Linked DNA regions of Homo sapiens: region 1 is reported to be linked to region 2. Evidence: microRNA targets listed by miRTarBase, many of them from high-throughput screens and not tested one by one. Region 2 holds a microRNA gene; the other region holds the end of a gene's coding sequence.
The links. Region 2 holds the annotated microRNA hsa-miR-3606-3p (AAAAUUUCUUUCACUACUUAG, at 815-835, opposite strand). A microRNA usually pairs through its seed, bases 2 to 8, with sites in the 3' UTR of a target mRNA and lowers its output. Matches are read on the target gene's strand: a 7mer-m8 pairs with bases 2 to 8, a 7mer-A1 pairs with bases 2 to 7 and ends in A, and an 8mer does both.

Region 1: miRTarBase lists CHD8 as a target of hsa-miR-3606-3p. Seed matches in the 3' UTR shown: 7mer-A1 at 988-994.

The regions. Positions count from the first base shown.
Region 1 is chr14:21,382,193-21,386,203 of GRCh38, reverse strand. CHD8 (chromodomain helicase DNA binding protein 8) reads left to right here. Exons shown (of 38, transcript NM_001170629.2): 38 at 28-1,005. The coding sequence ends at 591. It overlaps SUPT16H (SPT16 homolog, facilitates chromatin remodeling subunit), which reads left to right and starts at 2,185. Exons shown (of 26, transcript NM_007192.4): 1 at 2,185-2,342. The coding sequence starts at 2,277. It overlaps LOC107984643 (a long non-coding RNA gene), which reads right to left and starts at 1,931. Exons shown (of 2, transcript XR_001750627.2): 1 at 1,491-1,931.
Region 2 is chr2:188,993,506-188,996,505 of GRCh38, reverse strand. MIR3606 (microRNA 3606) reads right to left here and starts at 876; the gene lies at 814-876. It overlaps COL3A1 (collagen type III alpha 1 chain), which reads right to left. Exons shown (of 51, transcript NM_000090.4): 17 at 2,424-2,468; 18 at 2,174-2,272; 19 at 1,912-1,965; 20 at 1,675-1,782; 21 at 1,407-1,460; 22 at 716-814; 23 at 328-381; 24 at 10-108.

The DNA of each region.
Region 1 (4,011 bases), not on the chromosome of region 2:
TTATTATCTTCTATTCCCTCCTCCTAGGGTCATCACACTGAAACGGTGTTCAACCGGGTTTTGCCAGGGCCTATTGCACCAGAGAGCAGCAAGAAGCGGGCCCGTAGGATGCGACCAGACCTTTCTAAGATGATGGCCCTCATGCAGGGTGGAAGCACTGGGTCTCTATCTCTGCATAACACGTTCCAACACAGCAGTAGTGGCCTACAGTCTGTGTCATCTTTGGGTCACAGCAGTGCCACTTCTGCATCTTTGCCTTTTATGCCATTTGTGATGGGTGGTGCACCATCATCCCCTCATGTAGACTCCAGCACCATGCTTCATCACCACCACCACCACCCCCACCCCCACCATCACCACCATCACCATCCAGGCTTGAGAGCCCCTGGCTACCCCTCTTCACCAGTGACTACCGCCTCTGGTACTACCTTGCGGTTGCCACCACTGCAACCTGAGGAGGATGACGATGAGGATGAAGAAGATGATGATGACTTATCTCAGGGCTATGATAGCTCAGAAAGGGACTTCTCACTCATTGATGATCCTATGATGCCAGCTAACTCAGACTCCAGTGAAGATGCTGATGACTGAAGCCCCAGCATGGGCCCCATTGCTTGGGCGGCTGCTGTATTTTCATTTACTCTGGCCCTTGGACTATGGAAACGTGGGAGGGGCAGGGGAGATGTGGGGAAGTCCAGGACTCCAGGAGGTGAAAAGGAAAAAAAAAAAAAAATGTACCTGATTGCTCCCAATTATGAGAGGATTGGGTGGGCAGGGGAACTCCTAAAATAATACATGACCACTTCCTCATTTCTGGGGAAGGAAAGGAGACTAGAGCAGCTGGTGTGCTCACCCCTCCCTAGTCACCTCCATTAACCACAGACTATGTAGCGCTGGCCCTAGCCTCTGGCAGAGCCTGTTCCTGGCCGAACTGTGGATACAGCTGGAGGGTCAGGAACTGTTACCTTCTTTCCCCTTGGCATTAATAAATTTAAGTTAATCCTTTTCCACTCTTCCTTTGTTCTATGTTTGCTCAAACCCAGTGTATTGATTTTGAGTTGTTAATGGTGGGTAATTTCAGCACCACTTTCCTTAAGTTCAATACTGTTTATACTAAATTGCCTTACAGCAGACAAGTCATCTGTACTCCTCTAAAGGGTATATACAAATGTAGACTGTCCAGCTGGCTAAAGGCAAGGGAATTATTTAAGGTAAATGGTAGGTAGGCAAACTTCTGGATTCAAACTCCAAGTTTTTAGAAGAGACAGGGAGCAAGAATGTCATCAGGAACCATTTATGTTTTGTTTCTAATTAACTGAAGTAACGGTTATTTGGGGGAAGCCATAGAATAGTGCCAGTTTTCATGAACTGCAGCAAGGGGACTGGCCGACTGGAAGGATGCTGCCGCGACTTGGGCTCAGGGGGTGGGGTTGTGGGAAGGAACTAAAAGTTTGTAGAGCCCCTCAAGTCATCTGTTTCCTCTGACTTACACCATCCCACTGCTCAGTTAAAGCTTGCGCATATTATTTTCCTTTCGAAAACTAGGTTCCTCCCCCAGCTTGGGTCGTAGTTTATCACGAGGCTGGGCTCCATTTCCCTGGTATGAGTCCTCTGTCCCGGCGGAGCGCTTGACCCAGCATCCTGGCACCGAGGATCCCTCGAGTCCTGGAGCAGTCAAGGGCTTTTGCATTCCCATCATTTCTAGGAGGGGCGCATGCCCAGTTACACTGTAGTAGTCCCACTTTTATCCCACGCTAGATCCCGCTCTTTCCGCTCCCCCTTCCTTTGCAGATGGGGTGGAGCTATAACACCCGCGCGCGGCAGCTCTTGTGGGCGGGGCAGGCGCCGCCTCCTTCGCTTCGTCTAGGGACTGCCGCCTCGGCAAAAAGTCTGAGGTCCTGGAAACCGCCGCTGGGCTGAGAGTTAATAAGGGCGGAGGCAGACCGTCACGTGACGACGTCGATTCGCGTGCGGCAGTGGCGAAGTTGACAAACCCCGCGAAAATCGACTCTTTGCATCGCACATTTTGTTGATTTTCCCTCGTTTTTCTTTCTCTCTTTCCCCCGTCCATCCGAAAGAGGGTTGGAAAAAAACAAAACAAACAAACAAACAAAAAAAAAACCTAACGCTGTTGGGACCCGGAAGCGGAAAGGGCATCTTTGAGGTCGATACTTCCGGGTCATTGGGAGAGTGCGGGATTCCTGGGCCGAGAGCGGGTGGCTGAGCCGGGACCTCGCGTGATTCTCGGAACCCGAGGAGAAGCGGCGTCCGGGGCTATGGCTGTGACTCTGGACAAAGACGCTTATTATCGGCGAGTGAAGAGACTGTACAGCAATTGGCGGGTGAGGAAGATCCTGTAATTTTTCCTAGGGAGCCCCCTTAGCCATCCCATAATAACCCTGTTTCTCGGCGCCCTTTTTTCTCTTTCGGTCAGGAATTCCCGGGTTCTGTGCCTCACCCTTTTCGTTGCTCCCGAATCATTCACCGGAGGCGGCCACGAACGCTGCCCCTTAACAGGGAATCCCCCGCATTCACCCTGTCCTGCGGCCATCACCATCTTCCCCGCGTGCCAGCCTTGGTCATGCATAGCAGCACCTCTCGCAGTCTCTTCCCGCCCTAGAAGAGGCAACATCCTTCCCTCCTACTCCGTGGTCACGTCTTGCTGCCCTCCCCTGCCGTGTTCTCACGCACTCGCTCTGTCCCTCCAGAACCACAATATTCCACCCCTGGTCCCGCCAGGATTATAACCGTCTTCGTAAAGGAGAGATGGAAGGGCAAGGAGGATGTCAATCGGGCTTTTAGCGTTTATCGTTTGCGGGGCTTTTGCTGGAGTTAAAAAAAGAAATACTGCTCACGCGCAACCGCCTCATGTTCTAGGCCCTGCTGTGGGTTACAGAGAGGGACCTAACGCTGAAAGCCTGCAGGCATTAGTAATAACAAAACAAAACAAAACGATGCCTAAAACCTTATTAGTTCCTTGGTAGCGTATCCGGGGCACGTGTTCATTAAAAGAGCTGTGGCAGTTCCCAGTTTTTTAAAGATTCGGCAGTTTTGCTGCTCTAAAAACGTCCACAGTTAAAACTTATTTTTATGATGTTAACTTACTAATTGAGCAAACATTTGGTTGCATTCTGTGATGCAGTCTGAGTTGGCTAGCTTAAGTCTTGCCCCTGAACCCTGTCATCAAGGGAAGATACAGCTAATAAAGATTTTTTTTTAACCTGAAAAACGTTTTGAGAAAAATGATCAGCTCTCATTTCAGCATTGTAAATTATCTTTCAAACTGGTCATCTACTAAAACCAAGCCATTAAAATTGGTCGTTTCCTTGCCATTCATATTAAAGCTGTCTGTGCATGTTTCATCTTTTGGGGCTAAATACATTAGATAATTGAAAATAAAATTGATTCTCTTGCATTTTATGAAAAGGAAAAATAAGAACTAAATGCTAGATGAATACTGAACATTTTATTTTTTTTAATTTTTTGATTAATTTCTACCAAATGATTTTTTGCAGCTTCTCTCAGTGTCATATTATTCAAACATAATCGATGTTAGAAAAACATTTTAAAACCTTGATACTTTCTAATGATCAGTAAGTACTAAAAATCCGAAGCCCTCTCTTGTACCCATAAACCCTGAAACTGTGAACCTTTGGTATGAAAATTGTTTCTAGTCCCAGTGATTCAGATTCATCAAATAATTTCATTCTCTCTATACCATTCATGAAAACTAATCTATAGCTCTCACTTCCTCTACATGACAAATTAACTGTGGCCTGAAGACAGGTTGGCAAACCTAATAAAACTGATAGTCTTTAAATCCATGAAAGTTATTTCCCACCCACCATTTTTTTTTGTATCTCAAAAATCTTTAAAGTTTATCTTGGCCCTCTTACTACCTTAATGACATCATCTTGGGAGAATGTTAGATATTGATAAGACACTGATGGTGTAAAGTTATGAGCCAAATCTATGTAAAAATGTACCAGTTAACAAAACCTGTGGCTATTA
Region 2 (3,000 bases):
GGAACTCACATCATTTCCTTTAGGACCGGGGAAGCCCATGACACCAGGCTGACCTCGGGGACCAGATGGCCCAGGAGGACCTGGTCGACCACTTTCTCCTTGACTTCCCTAATAAGAAAAAATTACATTAATAAAGGTTTGATAAAGAGAAGATTAAAGCATGCTATATATATAGTATGTGTGTGTGTGTGTGTGTGTGTATATATATAGATATACATATACATATATATATATACACACACACACACACACACACTCAAGGATAGGCCAACATATACATTCCATTTTAACTGGCCTTTTAAAATGAGATTTTAAAAATGTACATACGGGAGGCCCTGGTTTCCCATCACTTCCTGGTCCTCCTGGACTTCCGGGCATGCCCTGAAGTAAAGAAGTCAGTTGTTAGGTGATTTAAAATGAAATAATAAAAAATTACTACATACACTATTTGTATGATTTTGATATTTTCACTTACATGTGAAGCCTCAGATTTGCACATCTTTTTTCCTGTCTATAAAGTATCTAAGGCAAGTGTTCTATCTTCTCTTCTCCTTGAACTATCTCGGCTTAAGTTTACTTAAAAGAATTTTGTTTTGTTTGGTGCCTTACAAAATATGTAATCTGATTGATTTAAGTTGCTTTTGATCTGTCTTCATTTGTCTTGCCTTTCTTCTGTCTAAATTAAAGTGTCATTCAAACAAATGTTTCTCTGTACCCTCATTCCTGGACCTCCAGGGACGCCATCTCTGCCAGGTTCTCCAGCAGCTCCTCTGGGCCCTGCAGGGCCTGGAGCACCACGCTCTCCAGCAGGACCCTAAGTAGTGAAAGAAATTTTAAAAAAATTAAAATAGCCTTCACTAACCTAGATAGCAACAATATTTTGGTTACAAAGAGAGGACGTCATTTGAACTTTTAAAAAGGGTTCGTGTGTTGCTGAAACATTTATACATAAAATCAGTTATCTTAGCTTGGATTGCCATATTGAAAAAATTTTAAAGCAACTTTGTGAACATCACATGCTTAATAAAACAGTATTCACTGTGCTTAAAAATATAATTATGTGCAGCTAAAATCAAATATCTTAATGCTATGAAATCATATTTGATGTAACCTTAGAGTTTTCAAAGACTTTTCAGGCATTTTAGTTTACTGTACTCTTGCAACGATGCTCAGATAAATGCTTTCCAATTAACAGATAAGTAAAGGATTCTCATAGAGGGTAAGTAAGTGGCTTTAGTTACAAAGCCAGGAAAGTTGTTGAACAGAGGATGCATTATATTAGGAATTTTTCTTAACTCTAATATATATTCTTCAGATATTTAGGTTTTCATGAATGAGAAATTGTATACAAGAACTGCCCATTTGTGGTGCTAGCATTTAGGAACATAGAAACTAAAGTTATCTACCTTTTCTCCTGGGATGCCATTTGGTCCAGCAGGTCCTCGGAACCCAGGGGCACCCTGAAAATAATGAAAGACAAGTATTTCAGTCCAAAGGATTTCAATTCTTTTTCATAATTCTTGAGTGGCAAATATTTTTATGTCATAGAATGCTTTAAACAATATTTTCACTGAACACTCAACTTAAGAAAAATTGGCTGTCTCACCCTGAAGGTAGTTTTATTTAGATGACAGTGATGCTGCTTTTCTTTTAGATGCCCCATGGAAAACGTACCCTTTCTCCTGCAGCTCCTGGAAGCCCATTTGCACCAGGTTCTCCAGGTGATCCATCCTTGCCATCTTCGCCTTTAGCTCCTGGAACACCTGGAATACCAGCCTCACCCTGAAAAAAAAAAAAGATGGTAAAATAAAGAAATTATGACTGAATTTAGTTCAAAGTTTTTACCTGTTTACTTTCTAATTATGTTGCATTTTTTCAAGAAATAACCAGATCTGTTGCAGTAAAACTTACGCGTTCACCACGTGGTCCGGGCTCTCCTTTGGCACCATTCTTACCAGGCTCACCCTAAAGTATAACAAAGTCTTGGTTGAAACACAGGGAGGATTCGACTAACAAATCATCACCAGTAACACATAATTCAGTTATAAGTTATAAGACAAGAGTGAAGTCAATATAAATTCAACTGAACAGGAGCAAAATTTTGCTATTAATTTTTTGTTGATGGAATTAAACTATACCTTTCAGTCAACAGAGAAAAAACAAGGCAACTTACTGCACCACCTCGCAGTCCAGGAGCACCATTAGCACCGGCTGGTCCTGGAGGACCCCGGGCTCCCATCAGTCCAGGAGCTCCAGGAATGCCAGCGGGACCCTAAGAACAAACCAAAGACACTATATTAGCCGAACTTGAATGTTCTTTTATGAATATCTCACTTAAATATCACAAATCTATTGTCATGCAAAATGCAAAAGAAGCCAGTAATGTGTGGATGAGATAAGGCTGAGGAGTGGGGACAGCTTACCATTTCGCCTTTACCACCAGGACTACCATTAATCCCAGGAGGGCCCTAAGTATACAAAAAACAGATAATGTATTAATAGTAATGCAAATAGTTCGTATATATTTGAAGTTGTTTGTGTGAAAATAAATGTATCGATGAGTGTTATGCTTTGTAGAGATTAAGTGAATCCTCCAACTATAACACAACATATGAAATGTGGTCAAAAGAATCATCATTATCTAAATAAATTAGAGATAATATGTACTTCGTATAAATTATTAAATGATACATAAATAGAAGAGATTTTGAATTTGGTTCTTCTCTGAATTTTTATGATTGGTGATTAGCTTGGGGCACATTCTTGAAAGCATCAGAAAACTAGTCTATCCTCTATTCTTTTATATAAACATAAAAAATCATGAATTCTGGAATAGTGCAACAGTCAAAAACTATCATTTTTACTACTAATCAAATCAGTATGTGTCACAGGAGGATCATTTTAGAGCACTAAGCAACAATTTTTTCAAAGTAATTTTCACTGATAGCCATATTGAAGCACATGCTTTCATGGAGTAAGCATGAAACTATGCTTTCATGG